7 separate regions of the Homo sapiens genome follow, and regions 1, 2, 3, 4, 6 and 7 are each linked to region 5. Evidence: fine-mapped expression QTL. A gene starts in region 5. Each other region holds a variant in brackets. All regions are shown on one strand. Distances are between the middles of the regions.

Region 1 (4,289 bases), 55 kb after region 5:
ATTATGTAACGTATGCTTCCTTCGATTTGATAACAGAAGATGTATATTTACTTTATTTTTGTATAAAATATTTTCTGAAAGAAGACATAAGCAACCCATGATCATTGCCTCTAGAGAGAGGAACTGAGGGGAGGGCCATAGGGAATGGAATGAGAAGACTTGTCCCTTGTACCTCTTTGTTCAAAAGAAATATCAAGAATAAAACACATCTATGTTACTGATAAAGATAGTTTCCAAAGGCTGTGTGCGGTGGTTCACACCTGTGATCCCAGCACTTTGGGTGGCCAAGGCGAGTGGATCGCTTGAGCTCAGGACTTTGAGACCAGCCTGAGCAACATGGCAAAACCCCATTTCTACTAAAAATACAAAATTAGCTGGGCATGGTGGTGTGTGCCTGTGGTCCTAGCTGCTCAGGAGGCTGAGGTGGGAGGATTGCTGGAGCCTGAGAGGTTGAGGCTGCAGTGAGCTATGATTGCACCACTGCATTCCAGCCTGGGCAACAGAGTGAGACCTTGTCTCAAAAAAAAAAAAAAAAGTTCAGTTTTTAATATTAGCTAAGTAAAAAAAAGCAAGGTATAGAATGGAGTATCGTAGTGCCTTTTGTGGCAACAAAATAGGTCGTATTTGGAATATATCTGGAAGAATGTAAGATGTTAGCAATGGTAGCTTGCCTGTAGGGTAGCAATGGGGGGCTGTTAATTTGGGGAGAAAGACATATTTTTCACTGTATACCTTTTTGAGTAATTTGAAAGAGTTTTAGCACACAAATATATTACCTATTAAAAATAATTACAAAGAGAGGGAGACATGGGTGGATGCATGGATGGATAGTTGGTTGGGTAGATGGATACATAGACAGGTGGATGGATTGGTTGGTGGATGGATGGATGAACTGTTGGGTGGGTAGATGGATTGATGGGTGAATGAATTGGTAGGTGGGTAGGGTGGATGGATGAATTGGTGGATGGGTAGGTGGATGGATGAATGAACTGGTGGGTTGCTGGATGGGTGGATGAATTGGTAGGTGGGTGGATGGATGGATTGATGGGTGAATGAATTGGTAGGTGGGTAGGGTGGATGGATGAATTGGTGGATGGGTAGGTGGATGGATGAATGAACTGGTGGGTTGCTGGATGGGTGGATGAATTGGTAGGTGGGTGGATGGATGGATGGATGGGTGAATGAATTGGTAGGTGGGTAGGGTGGATGGGTGAATTAGTGGATGGGTAGGTGCATGGATGAATGAATTGGTGGGTTGGTGGATGGGTGGATGAATTGGTAGGTGGGTGGATGGATGGATGGATGGGTGAATGAATTGGTAGGTGGGTAGGGTGGATGGGTGAATTGGTGGATGGGTAGGTGGATGTATAAATGAATTGGTGGGTGGGTGGATGGATGGATGAACTGGTGGGTGGGTGGATGGATGGATGGATGGGTGAATGAATTGGTAGGTGGGTAGGGTGGATGGGTGAATTGGTGGATGGGTAGGTGGATGTATAAATGAATTGGTGGGTGGGTGGATGGATGGATGAACTGGTGGGTGGGTGGATGGATGGATGGGTGAATGAATTGGTAGGTGGGTAGGGTGGATGGGTGAATTGGTGAATGGGTAGGTGGATGGATGAATGAATTGGTGGGTGGGTGGATGGGTGGATGAATTGGTAGGTGGGTAGCTGAATGGATGAATTGGT[T/TG]GGGGGGGGTGGATGGATGAATTGGTGAGTGGGTAGTTGGGTGGATGGATGCATTGGTGGGTGGGTGGATGGATGAATTGGTGGATGGATGGATGGATGGGTTCATGGTTGGGTGATAAATATATCCATGGGTATACATATGGATGTGTACATAGATAATTCTCTGGCTATGATAGGGAGGACTGGCTGTGGTGGGGAACACTGACTGTGGTGGGGAGCACTGGCTGTAGCGGGGAGGACTCAGTAGGACAAGGAGAGGCTGGAGGCAGTGAAGACTTAGGAAGCAGTTGCATAGTCCTGGCAAGGAATAATTTGGGGCTAGGATCAGGTCAATTAAATGTTTAACATTGGAACTATGTCTCTTGTATACATAACTGCATATGTCAAGTCTTGGTATCGTTTTCTTTCTAGCAGGGCACATTCCTTTGGAATGAGCTTTTACTGGCAACTGCTCAGAAGCTGTTCTGTATATAATGACCACCAACAGTTTAATCCTTTTTTCAGCCATCACCTCAGGAATTAACAGTAGTATGAAATCAATTAAAATAATCAGTCTTTGAGATGTCATGCCTTCTCCACGATCAACTTCTTCTTTACAAGGCTGTGTTCCAAATACGCCAGGCCAAAAAGACGTGAACTTTGTCCTTTTTAGGGTTTGTGTCTTGATGTTTCCTGGCTAAATCTCTTTGTATGTGTTGGCCTTGTAAGGTTTACTTTTTTTTTTTTTTTTTTTGAGATGGAGACTGTGTTGCCCAGGCTGGAGTGCAGTGGTGCAGTCTCAGCTCACTGCAACCTTTGCCTCCCGGGTTCAGGTGATTCTCCTGCCTGAGCCTCCCTACTAGCTGGGATTACAGACGTGCACTACCCTGCCCGGCTAATTTTTATGTTTTTAGTAAAATATAAAAATTATGTTTTTATGGGGGGTTCTTGCCATGTTGGCCGGGCTTGTCTCAGACTCCTGACTGCCTGCCTAGGCCTCCCAAAGTGCTGGGATTACAGGCATGAGCCACCGCGCCCAACCTAATAACTAGATCTCTTTAATTATTGGAACATGTATATTTTGATCAGATTGACACTTTTTTTTTTAAGTGAAGTGATCTTATTTCCCTCATTTCTCATTTTTAACTTTTTTTTTTTTTTGATATGGCTTTAAAGCTCTGTGGAGCTGTAAGGGTCTGGGTTCCTTGACACTCCATGGGGGTCTCAGGTGATCGTGGGAGGGCTGTTGGAATCAGAGCTATTTGGAGGGTGCATAGGCCAGTAGGATGGGAAGGCTGTGGGAGAAGTGGGCTTTTTGGGGACCGCAGCCAAATGGACAACTGGGCCTAATCTAAAGATTGGCCCCTCCCAGCTCCTACTGATGGTCATGTAACAGGAATGGGGCCCAGCACCACCAGATTTTCTGATTTTTTTTTTTTTTTTTGAGACACAGTCTTGCTCTGTTGCCAGGCTGGAGTGCAGTGGCATGATATTGGCTCACTGCAACCTCCGCCTCCTGGGTTCAAGTGATTCCCCTGCCTCAGCCTCCCAAGTAGCTGAGACTACAGGCATGCGCCACCATGCCTGGCTAGTTTTTTGTACTTTAGTAGAGATGAGGTTTTACCATGTTGGCCAGGATGGTCTTGATCTCCTGACCTCGTGATCCTCCTGCCTCGGCCTCCCAAAGTGCTGGGATGACAGGCGTGAGCCACTGCGCCCAGAAGATTTTCTGATTTTTAAAGTTATGCCAGAGACCGGGCGTGGTGGCTCACGCCTGTCATTCCAACACTTTGGGAGACTGAGGTTGGCAGATCACCTGAGGTTTAGGACTTCGAGACTAGACTGGCCAATATGGTAAAACCTTGTCTTTACTAAAAATTCAAAAAAAATTAGCCAAGCGGGGTGACCGCAGTCCCAGCTATTTAGGAGGTTGAGGCAGGAGAATCACTTGAACCCGGGAAGCAGAGATTGCAGTGAGCCGAGATCGCTTGAACCCGAGAAGCAGAGATTGCAGTGAGCTGAGATCATGCCACTGCATTCCAGTCTGGGTGACAAAGCAAGACTCTGTCAAGAAAAAAAAAAATAAAAATAAAAAGCCGGAAATCAAATTTTAAATGTTGGGATCTAATCTAATTTTTTTAAAAACAAAAAGTATGCCTAAAACAACAGCAATAACAACAAGCCATCTATGGGCCAAACTGTGGGTGGGGAAACCTATTTTGTACTTCTTATTTTATCCGATTGAATTGTGGTGGAGATAGGAAATTGAGACCCCAAAAAGGGTAGTAAGTTTTCCCAAAGTTATTTAGTCAGTTGCCAGATTATGGCTTGAATTAAATTTAAATTCTTCAGCTGGGCATGGTGGTGCACACCTGTAGTATAGCTGCTTGGGAGGCAGAGGTGGGAGGACTGCTTGAGCCCAAAAGTTCAAGGCACAGGAAGCTGTGATCTTACCACCACACTTCAGCCTGGGCAACAGAGCAAGACCTCATTTCAAAAAAAGAAAAAAAAAAGAAAAATTTAAATTCTTCATTACAGAACAGCTGATGGTGGAGGTTTATTCTTGGGCAGGTACATCTGATCTATTTATGTATGTATCTATGAATTTGTCTATTTGGC
Region 2 (4,586 bases), 45 kb after region 5:
TGTTCCTTCACCTTGCTGGTCCTCACCTTTCTCCTAGAGTTACGGGGAGGAGTAAATGTGCTAAGGCCATACACGCCGACTCTGCAGTGGCCTTGAACCATGCTTCTCTGTCACCCCTTTCGTTGCCTTGACAATGGCTGCAGCCTCCTTTCCCATCTCCCCTAGGATCTTCTCCTAGGGTCTCTTAATACAGGGGTCCCCAATCCCCAGAGCACGGACTGGCACCAGTTCATGCATGCCCTGTTAGGAACCAGGCCACAGGCCACACAGCAGGAGGTGAGTGGCAGGCGAGCGTGTGAGACTTCATCTGTATTTACAGCCGCTCCCCATCTTTTGCATCACCGCCTGAGCTCTGCCTCCTGTCAGATCACCTGTGGCATTAGATTCTCATAGGAGCGCGAACCCTGCTGTGAACCGTGTGCGCGAGGGATCCAGGCTGTGTGCTTCTTTTGAGAATGCAATGCCTGATGATCTATCACTGTCTCCCATCACAGCTGAGATGGGACCATCTAGTTGCAGGAAAACAAACTCAGGGCTCCCACCGATTCTACATAATGGTGAGTTGTATAATTATTTCATTATATATGACAATGTAATCATAGAAATAAAGTGCACAATAAATGTAATGCACTCGAATCATCCCCTACCCTGTCTGTGAAAAATCGTCTTCCACAAAACCTATCCTTGCTGCCAAAAAGGGGATGGCTGTCTTTTTTTCTTTTGAGATGGATTCTTGCTCTGTTGCCCAGGCTGGAGTGCAGTGGCACAATCTCGGCTCACTGCAGCCTCTGCCTCCCAGGTTCCAGCGATTCTCCTGCCTCAGCCTCCTGGGTAGCTGGGATTATAGGCACAATGGCACCGTGCCTGGCTAATTTTTGTATTTTTAGTAGAGACGGGGTTTTACCATGTTGGCCAGGCTGCTCTCAAACTCCTAACCTTGGGTGATCCTCCCGCCTCGGCCTCCCAAAGTGCTGGGATTACAGGCGTGAGCCACTGTGCCTGGCCAGGGACCACTGTCTTAATATGTGAATTAGGCGATGCCATGACCCTGCTTAATGCACTCCCAGGGCCTCCTGTGAGAATTAGAACAAAAAATCCATGCTCTGTACCATGCCTCCAAGATTGGCTATGTGGTGGCCTTTGGTGACTTCTCCCGCCCAATCTTGGGTCCTAGCTCATTGGTGCAGCCATATCCTCCCCCCACCCCACCCCACTGTGGCCTTTGCCTGTGCCATCTTTCTGCCTGGTATGTGCTTCCCGAGATCTTTGCACAGCCAGCTCTTCCTGACCCTTCCAGTCTGCTAGGATGTCATCTGCCCAGACCGCCACTCTGGTGCTTCCTGTCCTGACACCCCTGCTCTTTCCTTCACAGCAGGTACTGCTCTTTGTCATTATGTTCTTATCTGTGAGCTTTCATCTTTGATGGACTATGAGTCTTAAGAGGACAGAGATATCGTTTCTGATTTTCCCCCATGCCTGTGACTAGCCCAGGTCTAGGCATATAGTAGGTGCTCAATAAACAGTCATCGAATGATAGATTGAATGAATGAATGCATGACAGGAACCCTGCACTTATCTGTGTTAATCCGTCTCTTGGCTGCCGGGAACACCAGCTCCTGCAACCTGGCACTTGGGTCACCTGATTGAACCCTCCTGATAACTCTCTAAACTCTGTAATAGGTGGGTTCTAGAATTAGTCCCATTTCACAGATGAAGAAATCAAGGCCTGGTGAGGTGAACTGACTTGCTTTAGGGCAGCAGGGATGATTTTTGCCTCTCTGGAGATATTTGGCAATGTCTAGAGACAGTTTTGATTGTCATAACTTGAGGAGGTGGGGAGTGCTACTATCATCTAGTGGCAGAGGCCAGCGACGCCACTCAGTATCTTACAATGCACAGGATGGCCCCCGACAACCAAGAATTATTTGGGCTCAAATACCAGCGGTTCTGAGGTTGAAGAAGCCCTGCTTGAGGGCACACATCTGTAAGTGGTGGAGACGGGAACCTAGACCTGGAACCTTGTTTTGTTAACCACTACCCTGCACTGCTCACATGCGGGGGTGGGTGGGTGGGAAGAGTTGTAGAATGTTTCCATGTCTGAGTCAAAATCTTGCTTCTCTGCTCTAGGGAGATGAATTTGGAATCTGTGAGGCCTGAGG[C/T]CATTCACTTGATCTCCGGCCCTGGAGATCTTGCCTCCAAGCGACCTCAGGCTCCATCTGTCTGCCATGTACCTTGCAAACACCTTAGAATTCTGGCTGGGCATGGTGGCTCACACCTCTAATCCCGGCACTCTGGGAGGCCGAGGCGGGCAGACTGAGTTCAAGACCAGCCTGGGCAACATGGTAAAACCCTGAATCTACAAAAGATACAAAAATTAGCCAGGCATGGTGATGCGTGCCAGGTAGTCCCAGCTACTTGGGAGGCTGAGGCAGGAGGATTGCTGGAGCCCAGGAGATCGAGGCTGCAGTGAGCTGTGATGGTGCCAGTGTACTCAAGCCTGGGCAACAGAGTGAGACCCTGTCTCAAAAAACAAAACCAGCTGACCAAACAAACCAAAAGGCCTTAGAGTTCAAGCACGTGGTTTAGAGGTGGTGGATCTCAGTGTCAGACTCTCAGTGGGTTCAAATCCTGGCCCTGTTTCTTCTAGGTTGACGAGCCCAAGCAATTTACATAAACTCTCTGGACCTCAGAGCCCTTGCCAGGAAAGGGGAGAGTTTTAATAGTCCTGACTTTGTAGGGCTGTTGGAAAGCTTAAATGGACTGTGCTTGGGAAGCACTTAATCACTGTGCCTGGCGTGATCACTCTGGCTGTTATTATTGGCACCCAATAAATACATGCTTTCTCTTTGTTTCCAACTCAGCATTTAGAAATGTCCTACCCTTCAATTCCTGCTGCTATTTATTTATTTGAAGTGCGAACTAGCTTTCTTATTATTATTTTAGAAATCATGCAGAGGAGAAAATTCAAACAGTACGAAAGATAATACAACAAAAAATAGTAGTTGCCTTCCTCTCCCTGGTTTCAGGCCTACCCCCTGCAGATTAATTAGCTTTTTTTCTTTCTTTTTTTCTTTTCTTTTTTTTGCAATATGAAGTCTTGCTCTGTTGCCCAGGCTGGAGTGCAGTGGTGTGATTTTGACTCACTGCAACCTCCGCCTCCTGGGTTCAAGCAATTCTCCTGCCTCAGCCTCCCTAGTAGCTGGGATTAGGGCAGATCATGAGGTCAGAAATGTGACAACAGCCTGGCCAACATGGTGAAACTCCATCTGTACTAAAAATGCAAAAATTAGCCAGGCGTGGTAGCAGGCGTCTGTAATCCCAGGTACTTGCGAGGCTGAGGCAGGAGAATTGCTTGAACTCGGGAGGTGGAGGTTGCAGTGAGCCGAGACCACACCATTGCACTCCAGCCTGGGCAACAAGAGCGAAACTCCGTCTCAAAAAACAAACGAAACATCAAATTCCTGACTGTGTATGCTGCTTGCAGGTTATATATGACCAGGCCTGGTTCTGTATCTGTAAAATGGGTTACGTTATAGTACCTGAGTCCTAGAGTTGTGTGTGAGGATGAAATGTAATGTGAAACACTTAGAGTGGTGCTTGGCTGATGCAACTAATGAATCTTCCCTCTTACTCTTTCTATAGACAGAAGAAGGCGGCACAGGTTTCTTCATTGCTTTTCGCCCTTTGCTGAAATGTCATCTTGGCCCAGAGGCCCTTTCTGTCTACCTGATAAAGAACTAGCACCTGCCCACCCACCATTATGCTTCACCCACTTTCTTCTTCTTCAAGCCATTTGCTCCCATTGGGCATACATAGAGTTGTTTTTTTTAGCTGTTGGTAGTTTTGGCCGCTTTGCATAAAGTGAAATTGTGTGAGAGTGGAGACTTTATTTTACTTCCACATGACCTTGGCCCATGGTAGTAGTCGCTGATAAATGTCCACTGAGCAATAAGAACCCGACTGTTGCAAGTTACTTATTTATTTATTTTTGAGACAGGGTCTCAGTCTTTCACCTAGGCTGGAGTTCGGTGGTGCAGTCATAGCTCACTGCAGCCTCGAACTCCTGGGCTCAAGGGATCCTCCTTCGTCAGCCTCTGGAGTAGCTGGGACTAAAGGCAAACGTCATCACATCTGGCTACTTTTAAATTTTTTTATTTGTAGAAGGTGGGGAGTCTCACTCCATTGCCACCTCTGGTCTCGAACTCCTGGGCTCAAGTGATCCTCCTGCCTCGGTCCCCCAAAGTGTTGGGATTACAGGTGTGTACCACCACGCCCAGCTAAGTTTTTTTTTTTTTTTTTTTTTTTTTGAGATGCAGTCTCACTCTTTTGTCCAGGCTGGAGTGCAGTGGCCTGATCTCGGCTCACCACAACCTCCACCTCCTGGGTTCAAGCGATTCTCCTGTCTCAGTCTCCTGAGTAGCTGGGACTACAGGCGCACGCCACCATGCCCGGCTAATTTTTGTACATTTAGTAGAGAGAGGGTTTCACTATGTTGGCCAGGCTGGTCTCGAACTCCTGACCTCATGATCCGCCCGCCTCAGCCTCCCAAAGTGCTGGGATTACAGGCGTGAACCCCTCCACCCGGC
Region 3 (4,586 bases), 69 kb after region 5:
TTCCCCTGACTGGGTGCCATAACACTCCCAAGTTACCACAAAGAAGATATCCCCAGACACTGCCAGATGTTTCCTGGGAGGCAGAATCACCCCTGGTTAAGAACCACCGGTGGTTTATAGGTGGGGAATCTGAGGCACAGAAAGGTTAAATAAGTTGACAAGATCCCACAGCCAGTGTGAGAGAGCCAGGCCTTGATACAGCTCTGTTTCACTCCCAAGCCCTGTCTTCCTCCCATCAGGCAGCGGTGAGCAGTGAGACTACCCGTGATGGAGCCGGCTTTCTGCCATTACATCCCGGGGGGAGCTGGGAGCCCCTGGGGAGCCTGCAGTGTCCCTGTGGCTGAGTGGGTTTCTGCCACCTGCTCTCAGAATGTGATCTTGGTTTTTTTTTTTTTTTTTTTTTTGAGATGGAGTTTTGCTCTGTCACACAGGCTGGAATGCAGTGGCGTGATCTCGGCTCACTGCAGCCTCCGCCTCCTGGGTTCAAGTGATTCTCCTGTCTCAGCCTCCCGAGTAGCTGGGATTACAGTTGCCCACCACCACGTCTGGCCAATTTTTGTATTTTTAGTAGAGACGGGGTTTCACCATGTTGACCAGGATGGTCTCCAACTCTTGACCTCAGGTGTTCTGCCTGTCTCGGCCTCCAAAAGTGCTAGGATTACAGGCGTGAGCCACCACACCCAGCCCCAGAATGTGATCTTTTTCTTCCTTCCTTCCCCACCATGTAGGATGCCCAGGTGGACCTGTTTCGTGACATCACTTTCTACGTCTACTTTTCCCTCTTACTCATTCAGCTCGTCTTGTCCTGTTTCTCAGATCGCTCACCCCTGTTCTCGGAAACCATCCACGACCCTGTAAGTGTGACCACAGATGAGTGTGTGTGCGTGTGTGTGTGAGAGAGATGCGTGACACAGTACCAGCTAACATTTCTTAGATCCATCCAGGATCTCGTTCCAGCCTCCCTCAACCCCTGATACAGGGAATATCATCCCACCTACTTTACAGATGGAAAAACTGAGGCTTAGATGTGGCTGGGGGAGCTGAAGGAGAGAATCTGCTTTGTCATTGATGAACTGCTGTCTTGCAGGCCTGTAGGTTTCTCACTTGGCATGGTGATTTTGGAAAATGTGAGCAGATAATTACAAATCAGGTATTTTTTATGAATTCTAGCTGTCCAGATGTTCTGGAAAAGTAAAGTTCTGACAGATTAGGCCTATAATCCTACAGGGCAGAGCTGAGGAGTTGCTGGAGTCCCCGGCACTCCCTGTTGTATTATACTGGCATGCTTTCCTCACTTGTGGCAAATGCCTGGCCCCTGAGGGATTTGAGTGTGAGATCCTTGGTCTATTTTGTCAGTTTCAGAGAAATTCTGTAAATATGGAAACTTATCAGTGAGGAGTGTAGAGATGGCCACCGTTTCTGCTAGTAGAACAAAAGGGAACACTTTATTAATTTCCCTTAATTCTTTTCTTCTTTTTTTTGAGACAGGGTTTTGCTCTGTTGCCTAGGCTGGAGTGCAGTGGTGTGATCTCGGCTCACTGTAGTCTTGACCTCCTGGGCTCAAGCAATCTTCCTACCTCAGCTTTCTGAGTAGCTGGAATTACAGGCACACACCACCATGCCTGGCTAATTTTTTTTCTTTCTTCAACTTTTATTTTAAGTTCCAGGGTATAGGTACAGGATGTGCAAGTTCGTTACATAGGTAGATGTGTGCCATGGTGATTTGCTGCACAGATCAACCCATCATCTAGGAATCAAGCCCAGGATCCATTAGCTATTCCTCCTGATGTTCTCCCTACACCTGCTCCCCAACTTGGCTTACTTTTAATTAATTAATAATTAAAGATGGGGAGATGGTCTCAAACCCCTGGGCTCAAGCGATCCTCTTGCCTTGGCCTCTCAAAGTGCTGGGATTACAGGTGTGAGTCACCACGCCTCGCCTATTCTTTATTTTTTTAAATAGAGATGGGATCTTGCTGTGTTGCCCAGGCTCATGTGCAGCTTTTGATAAGAGAGATCTGGGAAGGCCTGCCCAGAAAACTGCATGTGAGCGGAGACCTAGAGGGGTGAGGTAGTGGGTGGAGCAAACACCTAGAGGAAGAGTGTTCCAGGCAGAGGGGAATAAGTACAAGGGCCCTGGGGTGGGGAGGTGTGGAGAGAACAGCAAGAAAAGCCAGCACAGCAGGAGAAGGCTAAGAGACAGTGGGTGCCTGAGAGGTGGGACAGCCCCCTTGTGAGCCAGATGAGCTGTTTGGGTTTTATTGTGAGTATGGGGCAGGGAGGCCTTGGAGCACCTATTTGATGCTGATTCATGGCTAGTCAGCTGGTAATGGGCGGATTGCAGTGGGAGAACTTTTCACCTCTGT[G/A]GTTCTGTTGGGTTTGGCCTAAACCTCTGTGAGGGGCAGAGGCTCACCTTGTGGGTGACGAAAGGGCTTGGTGGGCATCAGTATGGAGGAGGAGGTTGATGATAACTAAGAGATTTTAGAAACCTATGTCTCAGGCCAGGTGTGGTGGCTCACACCTGTAATCGCAGCACTTTGGGAAGCTGAGGCAGGCAGATCAGTTGAGTTCAGGAGTTCGAGACCAGCCCAGCCAACATGGTGAAATGCCATCTCTGCTAAAAATACAAAAATTAGCCAGGCATGGTGGTGCATGCTTGTAATCCCAGCTAGTCGGGAGGCTGAGGCAGGAGAATCTCTTGACCCTGGGAGGCGGAGGTTGCAGTGAGCAGAGATCACACCACTGCGCTCCAACCTGGGTGACAGAATGAGACTCTGTCTCAAAAAAAGAAAAAAGAAATGCATGTCCCAGTGTATGTTCTGAGGAGTCCCGTGTTGGTATTTCCTTGCCCAAAGAGGAGCTGGGTTGGAGAAATGAGCAAGTGCACACATCTGTGTATGTATTCCTGTGCATCTGTGTGTACGTGTGCATGTGCCTGCTTGTGTGTCTCGGTAGTCATAGGCATGTATATGCGTGTATGTGCTTATATGTGAATGTGTGCTTGTGAGTGTGTTTATGTTCATGTATGTGTGTGTTTGTGTGTGTGTGTGTCTTTGTGTTGTGTGTGCTTGCATATGTATAAAGTTCACAAAGGCAATGGTGACTCATGCCTGTAATCCCAGCACTTTGAAAGGCCAAGGCTAGAGGATCGCTTGAGCCCAGGGGTCACCCCATTTTGGATCCCTGGCTGGTGCCTGACACAGAAGAGAGGGGCTCATGAGTCAGTGGCTGTTATATGTATTGTGTATCAGTGTGTGTAAGTGTGTGGCAGCCGAGTGTCCCTGTTTGTCAAATGTTGGGCTATTCTTTTTTGTCTTTTGTTTGTTGTTTTTTTCTGTTGTTTTGTTTTGTTTTTAGACGGATTCTTGCTCTTGTTGCCCAGGCTAGAGTGCAGTGGCATGATCTCGGCCCACTGCAACCCCGCCTCCTGGGTTCAAGCGATTCTTCTGCTTCAGCCTCCTGAGTAGCTGGGATTACAGGCGCCCATCACCATGCTCGACTAATTTTTGCATTTTTAGTAGAGATGGGGCTTCACCATCTTGGCCCGGCTGGTCTCGAACTCCTGACCTCAAGTGATCCACCCGCCTCGGCCTCCCAAAATGTTGGGATTACAGGTGTGAGCCACCGTGTCTGGCCGAGCCATTCTTTAGAACTGGGATTTATACAAAACAAGTCACACCTCAACTGGGTGGCTGCAGACCTTGGATTGCTCAGGGTAAACAGAGTCTGGTTGGGGCTGCCTGGCTGGCGTGGGGATCACCCAACCCATCAAGCTTCCTCTGGGAGCCTGGGAAGAGCTCTCTTGCCATGGATGGTTCTGGAAGCTTTTTGAAGGAGGGACTTTCTTAATTTCTGATCTCCCTTGGGAATCTGGATAAATTCCCTTTCACTTCTCCCCTGGGCGTGTGTGTACCAGGGTGACTCACAGATCTGACTTGGACCTTTTTTTGTGCTTTCTGCATTCCTGGCAGCCTGGGCCTGGGATTTGCTCTGCCACCCTGGGTGACATGAAGCTCTCAGCTCTGGCGGCTAAAAGGCTACACTGTTGTGGGGCTGGGACACCCTGACTCTTCTCCCCAGTCATTGTTTTCTGTTTCTGTGTCATCTCCCCCAGCTCGGCTCCTCCTGTGTCACTGCTGGTCTTCCAAGATGGTGGAAGACACTGTGGTTTGTCTCTTTGCAGTCTCGCTCTGTCGCCAAGGCTGTAGTGCAGTGGCATGATCTTGGCTCTGCAGCCTCTGCCTCCCAGGTTCAAGCAATTCTCCTGCCTCAGCCTCCTGAGTAACTGGGACTACAGGCGCACACCACCATGCCTGGCTAGTTTTTGTATTTTTAGTAGAGATGGGGTTTCACCGTGTTGGCCAGGATGGTCTCGATCTCCTGACTTCAAGTGATCCGCCCACTTTGGCCTCCCAAAGTGCTGGGATTACAGGCTTGAGCCACCGTGCCCGGCTGTGGTCTGCCTCTTGTGCAGTGAGATCCAGCAGGGTGTCAAATGTGGGTGTGCAGGCTGCTGCATTTCTGACATTTGTGCACCTGTCCAGGAGAGAACACTTTGATTGGCTGACACTCTCTGTCCAGGAAGC
Region 4 (4,586 bases), 77 kb after region 5:
TTGATTAAAGCGTTGAAACTCCATTTTCTTTCCATTTCTCCGTCATGCTTTCAGTCATTTAATAATCAGGTGTTGTGCCAGGGGCTGAGCTAGAAAGAAACAGACCTTGACCACTGCCCTGGAGGAGAGATGGAAGGTGGGTGGCAGGCAGTTGAACCAACAACTGCAGGATGGACAGTGGGGGCTCTGAGGGAGGGAAGTGCTGGGAGTTGTGGGGGCTGGGAGAGTGGTCCCTGACTCAGCCTGGGGCTCCAGGGCTAGCATCCAGGGAGGAGAGGGGATGCTCAAGTCTAAGGAATGCGAGGCTCTGGCCAGGTGAATATGTTTGGAGGTGGTGGGGTGGGAGGGTGCTCCTGGTAGAGCAACTGGCATGTGCAAAGGTCCAGTTGAGGGAGCTTGTGGGTGTTGGGAATCACTTGGAATTCGGCTTGGCTAGGCTGGGTGCAGTGGCTCATGCCTGTAATCCCAGCACTTTGGGAGGCCGAGGCAGGCAGATCACCTGAGACTAGGAGCTCAAGACCAGCCTGGCCAACGTGGTAAAACCCCGTCTCTACTGATCATAAAAAAATTAGCTGGGTGTGGTGGTGCATGCCTGTAATCCCAGCTACTCGGGAGGCTCAGGCAGGAGAATTGCTTGAACCCGGGAGGCGGAGGTTGCAGTGCGCCGAGATCGCGCCACTGTACTCCAGTCTGGGCGACAGAGCAAGACTCTGTCTCAAAAGAAAGAAAGAAAAAAAGAATTCTGCTTGGCTAGATTGGAAGGGCTAGGATGTAAGCGAAAAGAGAGGCAAGAGTCAGCATCAGAGATCAAGGGTGCAATTATGTGTCACAATAAGGACTTGGAATTTTTTGTTTGTTTGTTTGTTTTGAGATGGAGTTTCACTCTGTCACCAAGGTTGGAGTGCGGTGGTGCCATCTCAGCTCACCGTGCCCTCCACCTCCGGGGCTCAAGCGATCCTCCCACCTCAGCCTCGCAAGTAGCTGGGACCATAGTTGCGTGCCACCACGCCCAAGTAACTTTTTCTGTTTTTGGTAGAGATGGGGTTTCTGTATGTTACTCAGGCTGGTCTTGAACTCCTGAGCTCAAGTGATGCCCTGCCTTGGCCTCCCAAAATGCTAGGATTACAGGGATGGGTGAACCACCACATCCAGCCAGGACTTGGAATTTTAACCCTACTGTGGTGGGAGCTGAGGAAAGGTTTTTCACCAGTGGAATGACACACTCAGGTTGGACAGGTTGTGGAAGATCCTCAGGCTCAAAGGAAGAGGATACATTGGACATGGGGGTGAGGTCGGTGGCACTTAAAAAGCCTTTGCAGGCACCCAGGCAGGTAGAGAGGGAGGCTGAGCCAGGATATTCCCCTGTGCCCACTACAGCATCAAAAACCAGAAAAAGGGCCAGGTGCGTGGCTCACACCTGTAGTCTTGGCATTTTGGGAGGCTTAGGGGGGAAGATTTCTTGAGACCAATCTGGTCAACATAGTGAGACCCCATCTCTTGAAACAAAAAAACAAAGAAAACAGACAAGTTGATGGGCAAAGGGCATGGGCAAAGATTCTGGGGTGTGCTCCAGTAGAGGAAACGGAGGTCCTGGGCAGGGAGGCATTTTGCACAGTTGGTAAGCAACAGGGCAAACAAATCACCAGTGTTTACGTTATACTGGCAAATCTCTTACTGCTGGACATTTAGGCTCCGTCTAATAATAAGGATAACAGCTGGGTGCACTGTATTATTTATTTAGTCCTCACAGTAGGGCAGGATGATCAGTCTCCCCACTTGACAGATGAAGACACTGAGGGTCAGAGTGGTGATGTGTCAGGAACCCTCCCACTGGGTTCTCACGCTTGAAACACAGATTGCTGGTCCCCACCCACACAGTTTCTGATGCAGTAGGTCTGGGTGGGGCCCGAGCATCTGCGGTTCCCAACAAGTTCCCAGGTGCCACC[G/C]ATGCTGGTGACAGAGCTGCGTTTGAGGATCACTGCTCTAAACATTATTGCTGCTGCACGCATTGCCTCCTGCTGGGTGCAGGGGTTGTGGGGGGCACTTTGGCAGTGCAGAGCGGAGGTAACCAGCAGAAAACCCGTTAGAACTAAAAGCTGAGAGTGTTTCTGACAAACAGGTCAACATGCTGAAAGACCCAGACAAGGTCCTTAAACTACCCTGCGCTCCAAGAATCAGTGCCTGGGGCTGCCGTACCTAATTGGTTCAAACCACAGGGTTTCTGGCCAGCTCATCTGGTACCAAACGTAGATGTCAATATGGTGGATGCCAAAGAACACATCACTCTGTTTGGATGAATCAGGCTTTTCCTCCCTCTGCCTTCAGCCAGGACTTCTCTGAATTGTTTTCATTTCAAATGAAAGAGGGACCAGTTCACAAGCTGCTTTCATGCTATCTGGGACAGGAGTTACTGTATTTCAGTGTCTGAGGCTGGGAAACCCCCTGGAGGTGGCTCTGTCTTTTGTACCTAGTGTGTGATGTCAAAAGATTCTCCTTGGTTTGGGTTAAATGACATGCTCCCTGGATTACAATCCAGTGCCCCATGATTTTTTTTCCTCCTTTTTTATTGTCAATCCTTGACCTACTTCAGAAGTTAGTTGTCTTTGTTGTCAAGTAAGGCCTTCCACGTCAGATAGAGGCTGTTTCCAGGCCGGGTGCAGTGGCTCATGCCTGTAATCCCAGCACTTTGGGAGGCCGAGGTGGGTGGATCGCTTGAGGTCAGGAGTTTGAGACCAGCCTGGCCAACATGATAAAACCCCCGTCTGTACTACAAATGCAAAAATTAGCCAGGCATGGTGGTGTGCACCATGTAATCCCCGCTATGTGGCAGGATGAGGCAGGAGAACTGTTTCAATTTGGGAAGCGGAGGCTGCAGTGAGCTGAGAACGCACCATTGCGCTGCAGCCTGGGCGATGAGAGTGAAACCGTCTCAAAAAAAAAAAAAAAAAAAAAAAGGCTATTTCCTTTTTTTTTTTTTTTTTTTTTTTGCCAGTGAAGGGGGGACCCTGTGTTGGCCTCCCTATCGGTCACTTGAGATAATCTGAAAATCTGTGTTTAGATCCATAGAAGAGAGGCGGCCTGAGGAGAAGAATTTGACAAAGCTCTTTGAGTGTGCAAATTAGAAATGGCAATTGCTGGGCGCGGTGGGTCATGCCTGTAATCCCAGCGCTTTGTGAGGCCGAGATAGGCGGATCAGTTGAGGTCAGGAGTTCGAGACCAGCCTAGCCAACATGGTGAAACCCCATCTCTATCAAAAAATCCAAAAATTAGCCAGGTGTGGTGGCAGATGCCTATAATCCCAGCTACTCAGGAGGCTGAGGCAGGAGAATTGCTTGAACCTGGGAGGTGGAGGTTGCAGTGAGCCGAGATCGGGCCACTGCACTCCAGCCTGGGCGACAGAGTGAGACTCAGTCTCAAAACACAAAAAACAAAAAACTGTGCAGTGTTCTGTCTGTCAATGTCCTTGTTGCATTTGCAGGGCAGGTTTTCTACCAGTGGCTGGGGACTTAGTTTTACTGGGCCGAGGGAAGGTTAGGATTTGAGGGTCTTGTTAAGCTGGATATGGGCTGCATTTCAAGCCTCCCCTGGCTGTCTCTATCCTGCGTGTTGATGCCAAGGCTGAAGAAGACTGGATTTGCAGGCAAAAGACTGTCATTTGAGGCCTGTTTTCACCCCTTAATCACTGTGTCTTGGTATGTTGTGGGGGTTGAGGTAGGCAGAGGTTAGCCAACCTTTTCTGGAAAGGGCTGGCTGATAAATACTTGAGGCTTTGCATCCCATACACTGTCTGTGGCAACCCCTAACTCCGCTGTGTAGCTCAAAAGCTGCCATACTCATTTATAATACATAAATGAATGGGTGTGACTGTTCCAATGAAACTTTATTTATAAATAGCTGGTCTGTGGGCCATAGATGCTTCTGATATATAAAGCATCTGGTATAGTGGTGTATTGTGAACCCACTGGGGTTTTTTCCCCCCCAAACACTTGAGCTTTATTGATGTATATTGACAAATAAAAATGGTATATAGGTTGGGCACGGTGGTTCATGCCTATAATCCCAGGACTTTGGGAGGCCGAGGCAGGTGGATCACTTGAGCTCAGGAGTTCGAGACTAGCTCAAGGAATAGAGTGAAATTCTGTCTCTACAAAAAATACAAAAATTAGCTGGGTGTTGTGGTGTGCGTCTGTAGTCCCAGCTACCTGGGGGGCTGAGGTGGGAGGATCACTTGAACCTGGGAGGTCGAGGCTGCAAAGAGCTATGATTACACTACCGTGCTCCAGCCTGGGTGACAGAGCGAGACCCTGTCTCGAAAATATATTTAAGGTGTACAGTTTTATGTTTCCATATACCAGAGGCTACTGTCACTGCTTCTATTATTATTACTACTACTACTACTCATGTTACCCTTTCTTTGGCTGTTACTTTGTGCCAGGTACTATTCTAAGTACTTACCATGTTTGATCTCATTTAATCTTCACCACCAAGGAACTGACCCAAGGTCCCACAGCTAGGAAATGGCAAGCTGGGATTGAGCCGTGCCAGCTAGCCCCGTGCTATGCACTGCTTCACACAGAAGCTGCCCC
Region 5 (4,586 bases):
CTTGTATCTCAGTTTGAAAGCCTCTTCCTCCAGGAAGCCTTCTCTGACTTCCACCCCCCAGCAAGGGTGGTATAAATTGCTAACTTAGGCCCACTTTTGCCCACTTTTTTTGTTTGTGTTTTTGAGATGGAGTCACACTTTGTCGTCCAGGCTGGAGTGCAGTGGGGCCATCTCAGCTCACTGCAACCTCCATCTCCTGGGTTCAAGTGATTCTCCTGCCTTAGCTTCCTGAATAGCTGGGATTACAGGCACCCACCACCATGTCCAGCTAATTTTTGTATTTTTACATTTATTTATTTATTTATTTGAGATAGAGTATTGCTTTGTCGCCCAGGCTGGAGTGCAGTGGCATGATCTTGGCTTACTGCAACCTCCGCCTCCCAGGTTCAAGTGATTCTCCTGCCTCAGCCTCCCGAGTAGCTGAGCCTGCAGGTGCCTGCCACCACACCCAGCTAATTTTTGTATTTTTAGTAGAGATGGGGTTTTACCATCGGTCAGACTGGTCTCGAACTCCTGACCTTAAGTGATCTGCCTGCCTTGGCCTCCCAAAGTGCTGGGATTACAGGCGTGAGCCACCATGCCCGGCCACCACTTTTTTTTTCTAGCTGTGACCATAGTTGTACATATCTCCCCTTCCCTGGCTTTTTTTTTTGTTTTTTTTTTCCTGAGACAGGATCTCGCTGTGTTACCCAGGCTGCAGTGCAGCGGTGCAATCATAGCTCACTGTAGCCTTGAACTCCTGGGCCAAATGAGCCTCCCACCTCGGCCTCCCAAAGCACTGAGATTACATGCGTGAGTCACTACTTCTGGCCTGTAAATACCCTTTCAAAAATATAATATTTGATTAACATCTGCCATCTTACCATAAGAAACACTTAAAAAAATCCCAATCCAAAAAAATTCCAATCCTTTAAGCTATATAAGAGTAGCAATTTTATCTTGTTCCTAGCAAGACATCTGGCATATAGTAAATGCTCAATAAATATTTGTTGACAGTATAAAGGTCAAGCAACAGCATAACTGGCATTATTACATGAAAGTAATTATCCCTTAGAAACTCATTCACCCTTGGGGGACCCGGGCCAATAAAAAAATCACAGAAAACAATCCTATCTACCTTCCTCCTTCCTCCTTCCCTCGCTAGGTCCTTTGATTGGGGGGAGGTCTCAAATGCACACACTGTTTCTGTTTTATTTGGTGCAGCTGTTGTGTGCATGTGTTATGGAAACCCACATCAGGCAGGAGATTAAGGAGGAGAGGAGAAAAGAAAGGCATCGCTGGTATCACAGTGAAATTTACACTCTGCGGCCTCGCCCTAGCTCCTCTGTCTCTACCTGTCTGCCTATGAAACAGTTCAAAACTAATATGGCGCAATGGATGGTATTATAGACTTCCCACCTCCCTGGCCAGACTTCTTGGGTTCAAAGTTTGGCTTAATCACTTACCATCTAAATAATCCCTGACAATGTACTCTGTCTTTCTGGGCCTTAGTGGCCTCATCTGCAAAATGGGGATAATACTACTTCTTACCTCATGGGGTTGTGAGGATTGCACAAGTTAATTTGTGTAAATTGCTAAGAACACAGCCTTAGGAAGCCTTGTCACTGTGAATGCATATTAATTTTTTTTATTATTATTTTTTGAGACAGAGTCTTGCTCTGTTGCCCAGGCTGGAGTGCAGTGGTGTGATCTAAGCTCATTTCAACCTCCGCCTCCCAGGTTCAAGTGATTCTCCTGTTTCAGCTTCTCAAGTAGCTGGGACTACAGGTGCCCGCCACCATGCCCGGCTAATTTTTGTGTTTTTAGTAGAGACAGGGTTTTGCTATGTTGGCTAGGCTGGTCTTGAACTCCTGACCTTATGTGATCGGCCCGCCTCGGCTTCCCAAAGTGCTTGATTACAAGCACGAGCCACCATGCCTGGCCTACGATTATCATGTCTCCAGGCTTCAGTTTCCTTACCTCTGAGGTGAGGATCAATAACCTGGTTATTTCTAAGTGATGCTTAAAGAGGTTGAGAAGAAGCAAAGGCGCTCTGCACACAGGTGAGGTCAACAGCTGTTAGTGATGGAGACTGGCGCCGTCTGGGTCATCAGTGCTCCGGAATCAGGCTGCTCACGGGTTTGAATCTCACTTCCACTTTCACTCCTTATTAACTGTGTGACCTCGGGCAAGTCACTTCGCCTTTCTGAACCTCAGTTTCCCCATCTGTAAAAGGTAGGTGAATAACAGTATTCACCTCCTTCTGTGTGACTCAGCTTTGGAGTCAGCGGACCGGGTTCAAATCCCAGCCCTGCAAGTGATTAGCCAGGTGACCCTGGGCAGAGGGAATCACTCAACCTCTCTGCACCTGGGTTTCTTCCTTCATGAACGTGGAGACTTTACAGGATGAAATGAGGGCACAGTTAAGGCGCCCGGTACACTCCAGGCAGGTAGGGGGCTCCGTTCACGTTATTTTCCCCTGGTGACGGATACTGTCCTTAAACAGCATTTGAAAAGTGGTCGCAGGGTGTGTGGCCCCAAAGATCCCAGGCGCTTCCGGAAGGCGAGCCAACGCTCCCCAGGCCCGTCCGCGAGCGGGTGGGCCTAAGCCTTGGAGGATCTGGGGTGGGGGTGGCGCGGGGTCCAGGCCCGGGGCGCCGAGAGGTGGCTGGTCCGGCTGCCCACGCCGAGACGCGCGAGGTGAGCGGGCGCCGGGGCGGGGCGGGGTGGGGCGGGGCCGCCGCATCCCCGTGACGCGCGGGCCAACCAGGCGGCGTTGCGGCCCCGGCCCCGGCTCCCTGCGCCGCCGCCGCCGCCGCCGCCAGCGCTAGCGCCAGCAGCCGGGCCCGATCACCCGCCGCCCGGTGCCCGCCGCCGCCCGCGCCAGCAACCGGGCCCGATCACCCGCCGCCCGGTGCCCGCCGCCGCCCGCGCCACCGGCATGGCGCTCCGGGGCTTCTGCAGCGCCGATGGCTCCGACCCGCTCTGGGTACGTGCCGGGGGCCGCGTGAGGCCGGCGGGACGGAGGGAGGCCGGCGGGGAGGGAAAGCACCGGGCCCGCAGCCGCCCGGGGCACCCCGCTCCCCGCTCTGCTGCCGGCCTCGGGGGCCCGGGACCCTCACGTCGCCCGCGGCCCAGCCCCTTTCGGGGGTGCAAGGCATGGGGGAAACTTGGGTGACTCAGTTCCTGCGGAGCAGAGCGTGGGGGGCCGCGTGCCCAGCCCTGGGGTTTTGGAGGGTCGGGTCGGGTCAGAGCCGCCGTGAGGAGGCCTTCCTGTTTTGGGGTTCCCGTCTGTAAAAACAACCTTCCAGGGAAGGGGACGCTAGAGATGGGGGGCGGGAAGAGGGGTGTCTCTCTGCTTCTGTTTTCCCATCTTTTTTGTGGTTAGGGTCCCCCCTTTTCACGAAAAATACTCCGTGACCAACGGGGTGAGCTGGGGAGGGGCTTAGATTGTAGAAAGGGACTTTCATTGTCTCCCCAAAGTTGTCGTACAAGCCACATTACTCTTCTGTGGTTACCTAGCTTTGTTTTTTTTGTTCTTTCTACTTAGATACTGCGGGGGAAGTTTGGGGGAACCAGGGAAGAAGGGGGATGTCCACCCTTGATGTGCCCTACCTGACCCTCGGCTCGGGGCAGACTTGGGGTGCAGCTGAGGACGCCCAGGACCCTGGTAGCTGTGGTCCTGCCCTCCCTTCCCTGCAACACGTGGAGCTCCTCTCTGGGGATGCCCCTTAGATTTAACCCCGGCAAGTTTTCTTCTGTAACGTGGCCTGCGGAGCCTGACTGGGTGTCTGGAGTCCACTTGCTGTGGTTTAAGCCCCAGTCTTTTGGGCTTCAGCTTCTCCGTAATGCGATTTGCCTCTTTGTTCCAGGAAGGCAGGCACTTCTGTCTCGTGCTGTCTTGATTGTTGGTGAACGCAGTAGGCAAATCTGGACACGACTGTTTCTCTCTCCTCTTTTGTTTAGGAATCAGGAGAAACAGCCTTGGTTCTTAGGAGCTGGTGATCAGCTTCCAAAAATACTTTCTTGTCCTGTTTTGCCGGCCTTTCCTCGAGGGTTGCATTTGGAGTGTTGAAAAGTCATCCTCCAGGGCCCCATTGGAGGGTTTGGTTTTGTTTGTTTGTTTTTTTTAGTAGGGTATCATTGTGTTTAATAACCTACCACACTTTGATATATCTCCCATTTTAAGCCAGTGGGGTTGGAGAGTAACCCCAGGGGTGGAAATAGAACACAGACTTTGCCTTGAGGGTCTGGGGGTGATTGGAGCCTCTTTGCAGATGGACTTTCTTTAGCAGGGGAAAACCTGTGGCTTCCTTGTTGCCAGGTGTAGTAACAGCAAGATTATTTTTTGCAAAGATTCACATGGTGATCTGGGTTTGTGTTGCTGTGAATTCCAGAATATTCTCTTGTTTATTTTCTTCTGAATTGAGGAGGGGGCAAAACAGGGTGAACATCCATGAGGTTTTGTATCAGGACGTATTTTATTGATGGCAATTGGTAGTTGATGGCTAATGAGTATGTTTGGGGTGCGCTTTGTTTATCTTAAGAAACTCATTCACGAAGTCCAGTTGTAATATTTTTTAAAATTTTTATTTTCTTTTTTCTTT
Region 6 (4,586 bases), 130 kb after region 5:
AAGTCCTGCAAGGAGAAAAAATCTATTAACTGTTTAACCTTATGTGTCCCAGGTGTACTTGTCCGCACCTCTTTAGTGTCTGTGCAACTGCACATTTGTCTCTTGGAATCTGCCTTTGGGAATGTCAAGTTTATGACGTTGTTTGTTGTTGTGGGTTTTGAGACAGAGTTTTTTTTGTTGCCCAGGCTGGAGTGCAGTCGTGTGATCTTGACTCACTGCAACCTCTGCCTCCTGGGTTCAACCGATTCTTCTGTCTCAGCCTCTTGAGTAGCTGGGATTATAGGCACCCACCATTACTGCACCCGGCTAATTTTTGTATTTTCAGTAAAGACGGGATTTTACCATGTTGACCTGGGTAGTCTAGAACTCCTAACCTCAGGTGATCTCCCCATCTCGGCTTCCCAAAGTGCTGGGATTACAGGCGTGAGCCACCGCTCCTGGCCTAGTTAATGACATTGTTTTTATTTCAGAGCAAAACCCTTTCTTTGATTATACAGTGCCTTTAGAAAGTATACATTGTGGTTGGGTCCAAATTAATGACCTTTAGCTGTTGTTTTAAGAAATGTTTTATCATTACTTTCAAGTTCCTGCCATAAAATAAGATGAATGAACCATGAGAGCTAGATTAATGGAAGAAAATTCCAAATCCCGATGGGATCCACATTGCTTTCTGTTTCCTTAACCCCAGCTTTCTGCTATCCTGGCACTATTAGCATTTCAGGCCAGATGATTATTTATTATTGGTTGTTTGGCCTAGGTAAGGGGAGTGCTAGAAATGTATATAAAATATTTATCTTTTCCCAAATGTTTTAGTTGGTGTGGTTTGTGTATATTATGTCTGAAATTTCTGTGGGTTCTATGGTAAGGCACCACTGTTGACATTTTGGCTTTTTAAAAGTTAGGATATTCAAGTCAGCAGGTTAATTATTTGAGAATTTAGAGTAAGAATGAGGGTACCTGGGACCTGCTGTCAGCTTTGCCCTCTCTAGAATTCCCTTATTCAAGAATCTTCTGGCTGGGCGCGGTGGCTCACATCTGTAATCCCAGCACTTTGGGAGGCTGAGGCAGGTTGATCACCTGAGGTCAGGAGTTTGAGACCAGCCTGACCAGCATGGCGAAACCCCGTCTCTACTGAAAATACAAAAATTAGTGGGCCTGGTGGTGTGTGCCTTTAGTCCCAGCTACTCAGGAGGCTGAGGAAGGAGAATCCCTTGAGCCCGGAGGCAGAGACTGCAGTGAGCTGAGATCTTGACACTGTATTCCAGCCTGAGCGACAGCAAGGCTTCGTTTCAAAAAAAAATCTTCAGGGGCTCCCCTTGCCCCTCTGATAAAGCCCATGCTCCCCACCAAGTATAGGCCCCCTTGCTGTCCCTGGTGTGTTTTCTGCCAGTCGTTCCCTCACAGGATTGATCGATGTTCCTGTCACGCTGGCCTTTCTGTTCCTTGAATGTGCCAAGTACTTTTCACTTCCAGGCCTTCGCATGTGCTGTTCCCTCGGACTTGAATGCTCTTCCCTCTTCTCCTCATGAAACTGACTCATTCTTCACTTTTTGGTTCTTGTCTAAACATATGTTTGAGCTGAGCATGATGGCTCATGCCTATAATCCCAGCACTTCAGGAGGCCAAGGCAGGAGGATTGCTTGAGGCCAGGAGTTTGAGACCAGGCTTAGCAACATGGCAAGATTTTGTTTCTACAAACGTAATAAATATATAGAGAATTAACTACCTCAGCATTTTCATTAGCAAAATACACAAAACAAATATCCTTACTCTAGCCTTTATTCTCATGCTGTTTGTGATACCTGACATATGGAAATAAAAATAAGCCTTTGAAATGGATGCTTGATATAGGAGTCTTTGCTTCAATTTTTAGCAAGGATATTTCCTCAAAGATCCTTCCCGGATGTCCCAAACTAGGTCAGTCTTTTAATTTTTTTGAGACAGGATCTTGCTCTGTGGTCCAGGCTGGAGTGCAGTGGCACGGTGCAATCTCAGCTCGTGGTACCTCCATTTCCTGGGCTCAGGTGATCCTCCCACCTCAGCCTCCCAAGTAGCTGGGACTACAGATGCACAGCGCCATGCCTGGCTAATTTTTCTATTTTTTTTAGAGATGGGATTTCTCTATGTTGTCCAGGCTGGCTTTGAACTCCTGACCTCAAGCAGTCTGCCTGCCTTGGCCTCCCAAAGTGCTGGGATTACAGGCATGAGCCACTGCGCCTAGTCAAGTTAGACTCTTAAAAAGTGTC[A/T]TATATCTTTTTATCTTTGCGTCCACCGTAACTGTAATCAAGTAGTTTTCCGTCACCTGAGGGACTTCCACTCTTTGGAAGCAGGGGTTTTGATCACCGCTGTAGGCATTGAGTTAATAGCTAGCTACTAAGTAAATAACTGTAATCTTATCAACGAGGATATCAACTCTTTGACTCCTGATATTGGAGTCAGTGATTCACCTGCTGTGGGTTCTGATCCCAGCCCTGGCATCTGTTGTCCTTTGTGAGTCAGTTTCCCTCTTGCCAAAGCAATAGTTGTGATGAAAATGACTTGTGAAGTGAGGCCCTCCTAGCAGGCGGGTGGGCCAGCTGTTGTCTCGTTGATCAGATCTGTCTGTGTGTCTGTCTCACCTCGTTCTCCATTTGCAACTTAGGGCTCCGTGGCCTATGTGCCACAGCAGGCCTGGATTCAGAATGATTCTCTCCGAGAAAACATCCTTTTTGGATGTCAGCTGGAGGAACCATATTACAGGTCCGTGATACAGGCCTGTGCCCTCCTCCCAGACCTGGAAATCCTGCCCAGTGGGGATCGGACAGAGATTGGCGAGAAGGTCAGTATAGGTTGGATGTTGGCCCCTGAATCAGTCAGCTGTTGCCGCGTAACAAATGCTCTCACAATCTCAGTGGGCTGTGAGTCTGCTGCTATCAGCTGACCCGGCAGGGCTCAGCTGGGCGGCTCTGCTGCACGCTGCAGGCCAGCTGAACTTGGGTCCAGGCTGTGGGTGTGGCTCAGGTCTCACTTACAGAGCTTTTGCTGGGGACCGGGGTGAGGGGTCCACAGCTTTCCAAAGGGGGGCTCTTCTCATGGTGGCAGCAGAGGCCCAAGATAGGCCCCCCAGAAAGCATGCAATGTCCCTTAAAGTACACTGTCCCTTCTACTCACAAAGCAAGTCACTTGGCCAAGCTCAAAGGCAAGGGACCAAGAAGGAAGTACATTCTACCTTTGTGGTCACATGACTGCAGAGTCACATGACAGAGGGCATGCTGTTGGGAGGAGGGGAGTCGATGATTCATATGTTCACAGTCCCTGTCAAGATAGCCATAATACTGAAAATAGCACAATAGCTAACACTTACTGAGCATTTTCTCTTTCTTTTCTTTCTTTCTTTTTATTTATTTATTTATTTTTGAGATGGAGTCTTGCTCTCTTGCCCAGGCTGGAGTGCAGTGGCACGATCTCAGCTCACTGCAACCTCTGCCTCCCGCGTTCAGGTGATTCTCCTGCCTCAGCTTCCTGAGGGGCTGGAATTACAGGTGCATATCACCACACTCGGCTAATTTTTGTATTTTTAGTCGAGGCAGGGTTTCACCATGTTGGCCAGGTTGGTGTCTAACTCCTGACCTCAAGTGATCCGCTGGCCTCAGCCTCTCAAAGTTCTTTTTTTTTTTTGAAATGGAGTCTCTCTCTGTCGCCCAGGCTAGAGTGTAGTGGCTCACTCTTGGCTCATTGCAACCTCTGCCTCCTGAGTTCAAGTGATTCTCCTCCCTCAGCCTCTTGAATAGCTGGGACTACAGGCCCCTGCCACCACGCACAGCTAATTTTTGTATTTTTATTCGAGGCAGGGTTTCACCATGTTGGCCAGGTTGGTGTCTAACTCCTGACCTCAAGTGATCGGCTGGCCTCAGCCTCTCAAAGTTCTTTTTTTTTTTTTGAAATGGAGTCTCTCTCTGTCGCCCAGGCTAGAGTGTAGTGGCTCACTCTTGGTTCAACCTCTGCCTCCTGAGTTCAAGTGATTCTCCTCCCTCAGCCTCTTGAATAGCTGGGACTACAGGCCCCTGCCACCACGCACAGCTAATTTCTGTATTTTTAGTAGAGATGGGATTTCGCTGTGTTGGCCATGCTGATCTTGAACTCCTGGCCTCAGGTGATCTGCCCGCCTCTGCCTCTCACAATGCTGGGATTACAGATGTTAACCACCTCGCCCGGCCTATAACTTGAGTATTTTCTGTATGTTGGGAACTATGCTAAACATTTTACACGTAATTCTTCCCCACAGCAAGCCCATGGGTGGAATTTGTTGTTATACCTAGGTAATCATTGAGGAAAAAGGAGGCACAGAGAGGCCAAGTGACTTACCTGAGGCCACACAGCCACAGAGCTGCAGAGAGCATGGTTCCTGTGTCCATGTTGTTACCTGCTCATTTTGTCATCTCTAAAAGGGCCATTCTCTGCCTCTCACCACTGCAGACCCTCCCTCCTGCTGTGCTCCATCTCCCAGGTTTTCCTGCTGCTTCACAGCAACCCCCAGCCCCTGCCCACCTCCACACCTTGGTCTGAGCCTTCAAGGCCTGGGGTGCCTCCCCTGCTGCTTGCCTGGC
Region 7 (4,586 bases), 150 kb after region 5:
TTAATCACCCCCAAAAGAAACCCCAATCCATCAGCCATGACTCCCTATTTTCCCCAGCACCTCCGAAGCCCTAGGCAACCACTAATCTTTCTGTCTCTCTAGATTTGCTTATTCTGGACATTTCATATAAATGCCATCACAATAGGTGGAATGTTGTGACTGGCGGCTTTTACACTTAGCGTGGTGTTTTCAAGGTTCGTCTATGTTGTAGCTTCATTTCCTTTTATTGCGGAATAATATGCCATTGTGCAGATAGACCATACTGTGTTGATCTGTTCACTGGTTGATGGACATTCAGGTTTTTTCCACTTTCTGACTCTTGTGAATACTGCTGTCATGAGCCCTGGTGGTTTTAAAGGAAAAGTTGGTGGCCGGGTGTGGTGGTTTGTGCCTGTAATCCCACCACTTTGGGAGGCCAAGGCGGGTGGATCACTTGAGGTTAGGAGTTCAAGACCAGCCTGGGCAGCATGGTGAAACCTCGTCTCTACTGAAAGTACAAACATTAGCTGGGATGGTGGTGCACACCTGTAGTCCCGGCTATTCGGGAGGCTGAGGTGGGGGAATCGCTTGAGCCTGGGAGTCAGGCTGCTGTGAGCCAAAATCATGCCACTGCACTCCATCTGGCCTGGGTGACAGAGCAAGACCATGTCTCAAAATACAGTTGGATTTTTGTTTCTTGCCAGTGCATGATAGCTGACATTCCCTTCAGCTTTTAAATTATTTGATTAGACTGAATTTCTGCATGTTCATTCCCTTGTGGTTGGGAAGTTCTACCTTGAGTCTAGCCTGTTTCTTCTTGCTGCAGAATCCCCCTTTGTCTATCTCTCAGCCCGAGCAATGCATTGTGGCAACTTCTCGGTGACTTTTTCACTGACCTGCTTGGCAGGCTACTTTTAGGTGACAATACCCTTTGTGCTCTCTAAATCAAAATGTGTGGGTTTAGCTGAATCTTTTGCCCAGCGTGAGGTCTGTCTCTCTACCCTTCCGTCCAGGTGAGCAAAAAATGTCCTTAAACTCTCTTGGCCCCAGATAGGTTCCGCACCCCCGCCTTTCTTTCCCAGCTGCTAGAGTATCCAAGCAGTGTATACAGAACATGGAAGGCTGCCAGATGCTTTGTGATTTTTGTACACATCAGCACTTAATTTGGTGATGCAAATGCCGCCCACCACCCTGGCACCTCGTGCGTTCATTTTCCCAGTTTGACCTCCCTACCTCCTGCCTTTGAGGTTACATAGAAGTCCTTGGCAGTGGGTCTTACATCAAACTGGGGCACCCCCCTCTCTCACCACCCACCCTTTTCCATTGCTCTGGAGGGGCCCTGGCTATAAAGTCTTGACATCAGGGTCTGGTCTTGCCCAGCCTTAGCCAACTCGAAGCGCCAATGACCTTGGGTTTGTTTAAACCACATTTTTGGCTCTTCCTAAAGGGGAACTTTTTTCCTTGTTGGATTAATCAGCTCTTTTTTTTAGAACACCCAGGCTGAAGGGGTGCAGGTGTTGGTATTTGGTTTGGGAGAATCCTTGAGGGGGGATGGGCAGGAACCAGGCTTGTGAATGGGGCCATACCGACCTCTCTCCCGGGATATTCAGTTTACTGATTTCTAAGAAATATATCTTTTTTACTGTTTGTCTCCCTCTCTCCTTTTTTTTTTTTTTTTTTTTTTAACTTTTAATGGCATTCCTTTTATTCCTAATTTATTCCCATGCCATAAGCTTTTGTTTCTTCAATTTCTTCTGGGATATATTTTTCTTCTGTGCAGCCTCCCCTTCCGGTTTAGGAACAGTTTGTTCCCTTTCAGGCAGGATCATCTGGATGTGGCAGAGTGAGCTCACGTATGGGTTAATCCGACCGACCCTGAGCTCTGTAGGTCCGGCGACGCAACTTAGGTGCTTTCTTCAGTTGGATATGCTCAAGGACCAGAGAATCTGCATCTGAACCCTTAAG[TTCAGTGTGACTCTC/T]TGTATTTTTAAGCATGTGCAGCAGAAATTCAGTGCTCTTTTTGGGCCGCCGACCTTGTGGCCAGCCCCACTTCTTGGCCTGGGTACATCTACCAACTCCACCATTATAATGTCAGAATGGTACATGTTGTTTCTGTAAAGTGGCATCTTTCTGATACTTTGTGGCCTTTTGTACGTGCATACCTTTGATGGCCTGGGCGCTTTCAGGAGTGTTCTTTTTCTTTTTCTTTTTTTTGAGACGGAGTCTTGCTCTGTCGCCCAGGCTGGAGTGCAGTGGCGCGATCTTGGCTCCCTGCAAGCTCTGCCGCCCAGGTTCACGCCATTCTCCTGCCTCAGCCTCCCGAGTAGCTGGGACTACAGGCGCCCGCCACCATGCCCAGCTAATTTTTTTTGTATTTTTAGTAGAAACGGGGTTTCACCGTGTTAGTCAGGATGGTCTCGATCTCTTGACGTCATGATCCGCCCGCCTCGGCCTCCCAAAGTGCTGGGATTACAGGCGTGAGCCACTGCGCCTGGCCTTTTTTTTTTTTTTTTTTTTTTGATACAGAGTCTCACTTGTTGCCCAGGCTGGAGTGTAGTGGCACGATCTTGGCTCACTGCAGCCTCCACCTCCCGGGTTCAAGAAATTCTTGTGCCTCAGCCTCTCGAGTAGCTGGAGTTACAGGCATGTGCCACCACGCCCAGCTAATTTTTGTATTTTTAGTAGAGATGGGGTTTCACCATGCTGACCAGGCTGGTCTCAAACTCCTGGCCTCAAGGGATCCTCCTGCCTCAGCCTCCCAAAGTGTTGGGATAACAGGCATGAGCCACCATGCCCGGCCTCACAAATGTTCTTAAGGTGAACACGAAGATTTGAACCTCTTGATCTGCATGATTCTGTGGTGTTTTCTGGATAAAGTGAATAGTGAACCATTTTCACAGATTGCCTCAAGCCCCTTAGGGGAACAAATTTTTAAGGGATTTAAAAAAATGGCTCATTAACCTTCATACCTGGAAGGTAAAACACATCTTCATGACTCTGGTTTCTTTCTTAGGAACCTAATACCTAGAGCAGTGGTTTTCCATCAGGGGCAAATTGCCCCCACCCTGGGGACAGTTGGCAATGTTTGGAGACATGTTGGGATGTCAAAACTGGAGTGGGGTTTGCCCCTGGCAGGCAAGCAGGGTAGAGGCCAGCGATGTCGCTAAACATCCTACAGCACTCAAGACGAATTCCCCCTTACCCTGCCCCCCGTGACAGGGAATCCCCTTGCCAGGACATCCAAAGCACCACGAGCAAGAAACCCTGTGTGCTCCGACTTCACACTGCTGAATTCTTCCCTTGTCCTCTTGGGAGAAGGATCTTTATTCCAACAATGTGGCCATTTTTCTCTTTTAAAAAATTTTATTTATATATTTTTATGTTTTTTTATGGAGATGGGATATCAGTCTGTTGCCCAGGCTGGTCTCGAACTCCTGGGCTCAAGCGATCCTCCCACCTTGACCTCCCAAAATGCAAATGCTGGGATTATAAGCATGAGTCGCGGCACCTGGCCCGTGGCCATTTTTCAAAACCTTGCTTGAACCATCTGTTAACCTCATGGCAAATATTTTTCCCTCTTAAGTATTTACCGAGTTTTTCTTAATGATTATAAAAGCAACATGTGCTCATCGTAGACATTTGCAAACTACAAAAGAGTACAAAGAATCAGGAAAAAAGGTGGCTCATATGTGTAATGCCAGGACTTTGGGAGGCCAAGGTAGGCGGATCACCTGAGGGCAGGAGTTCGAGACCAGCCTCGCCAACATGGTGAAACCCCATCTCTACTAAAAATACAGAAATGTCAGGAGGCTGAGGCAGGAGAATAGCGTGAATCCGGGGGGCAGAGCTTGCAGTGAGCCAAGATTGTGCCACTGCACTCTAGCCTGGGTAACAGAGCGAGACTGTCTCAAAAAAAAAACAAAAAAACAAAAAAAAACTCCCGAGAAAGAACATCTTTCTGCCCTCACTGCCCAGAAGGGGAGCTGTTGTTAGCTTTGGCATCTTTTTCACCTGTCCTTCCTTCCTAGGCCTTCTCCCTTGACAAGATTGAGAGTATATCTTAGAGTTTTCTCATCTCCTGCCACCTTTTGATTTCTTTTCTTAACAGTGGGCCATAAGCACCTCCCCAAGTTACACAAATTAGTTGTCAGCACAGAGCAGCTGCCGAGAGAGTTCATCAGACAGACCCCCACATTCCTTCTGGCTGTCCTCAGAGGCCGGATTTCTTCCTCTTTTGAGGATGAAGAGCTTTCTCTGCCGAGGCTGGGGGAGGAGGTCAGTGAGGCAGCCAGTGAATGCCGTTTTTGGTCAAAAATGAGGCGTTGACTATAAAGCTGTGAGTTGAATTCTTCCCTCCGGGGAGGCTGGCCTGCTGGACCTTGCCCAAGCAGAGTTCCAGAACCTTCTTGAGTAAAGGCAGTGTTGGTGGAATAAACAGTGAGAGGACTGGCAACGGAATACACAGACCCGGGGCAGCACTTAACGTACGTGGGTCAAGGGTAGAAACAGCACCTGGCTTGACAGCATCCAAAACCCAACACCTGGTGGTTGCATGAACTCAGTGACAGTCACTGAATTACAAGTTTCGTGTGTTTGCTTTAAAAAAA

What was found.
Region 1: its variant is fine-mapped to the expression of ABCC1 in whole blood (INTERVAL, PIP above 0.99).
Region 2: its variant is fine-mapped to the expression of ABCC1 in whole blood (TOPMed, PIP above 0.99).
Region 3: its variant is fine-mapped to the expression of ABCC1 in whole blood (INTERVAL, PIP above 0.99).
Region 4: its variant is fine-mapped to the expression of ABCC1 in whole blood (TOPMed, PIP above 0.99).
Region 6: its variant is fine-mapped to the expression of ABCC1 in whole blood (TOPMed, PIP 0.91).
Region 7: its variant is fine-mapped to the expression of ABCC1 in whole blood (INTERVAL, PIP above 0.99).

Annotation. Positions count from the first base shown.
Region 1 is chr16:16,002,253-16,006,541 of GRCh38, forward strand. The region is part of intron 1 of ABCC1 (ATP binding cassette subfamily C member 1 (ABCC1 blood group)); the gene reads left to right. Among named protein-coding and RNA genes, the nearest start is that of ABCC1, 55 kb to the left of the region's middle. The variant T/TG (reference allele first, on the strand shown) is at 1,692.
Region 2 is chr16:15,991,696-15,996,281 of GRCh38, forward strand. The region is part of intron 1 of ABCC1 (ATP binding cassette subfamily C member 1 (ABCC1 blood group)); the gene reads left to right. Among named protein-coding and RNA genes, the nearest start is that of ABCC1, 44 kb to the left of the region's middle. RefSeq lists enhancers at 1-196, 197-728. The variant C/T (reference allele first, on the strand shown) is at 2,160.
Region 3 is chr16:16,015,768-16,020,353 of GRCh38, forward strand. ABCC1 (ATP binding cassette subfamily C member 1 (ABCC1 blood group)) reads left to right here. Exons shown (of 31, transcript NM_004996.4): 5 at 729-854. Among named protein-coding and RNA genes, the nearest start is that of ABCC1, 68 kb to the left of the region's middle. The variant G/A (reference allele first, on the strand shown) is at 2,367.
Region 4 is chr16:16,023,502-16,028,087 of GRCh38, forward strand. All of the region lies in intron 5 of ABCC1 (ATP binding cassette subfamily C member 1 (ABCC1 blood group)), which reads left to right. Among named protein-coding and RNA genes, the nearest start is that of ABCC1, 76 kb to the left of the region's middle. The variant G/C (reference allele first, on the strand shown) is at 1,947.
Region 5 is chr16:15,946,832-15,951,417 of GRCh38, forward strand. It overlaps ABCC1 (ATP binding cassette subfamily C member 1 (ABCC1 blood group)), which reads left to right and starts at 2,785. Exons shown (of 31, transcript NM_004996.4): 1 at 2,785-2,968. The coding sequence starts at 2,921. LOC107984869 (a long non-coding RNA gene) reads right to left here and starts at 2,340. Exons shown (of 3, transcript XR_001752339.2): 1 at 1,960-2,340.
Region 6 is chr16:16,080,725-16,085,310 of GRCh38, forward strand. It overlaps ABCC1 (ATP binding cassette subfamily C member 1 (ABCC1 blood group)), which reads left to right. Exons shown (of 31, transcript NM_004996.4): 17 at 2,642-2,818. Among named protein-coding and RNA genes, the nearest start is that of ABCC1, 130 kb to the left of the region's middle. The variant A/T (reference allele first, on the strand shown) is at 2,247.
Region 7 is chr16:16,092,339-16,096,924 of GRCh38, forward strand. The region is part of intron 19 of ABCC1 (ATP binding cassette subfamily C member 1 (ABCC1 blood group)); the gene reads left to right. It also overlaps the pseudogene RPL17P40. Among named protein-coding and RNA genes, the nearest start is that of ABCC6, 130 kb to the right of the region's middle. The variant TTCAGTGTGACTCTC/T (reference allele first, on the strand shown) is at 1,945.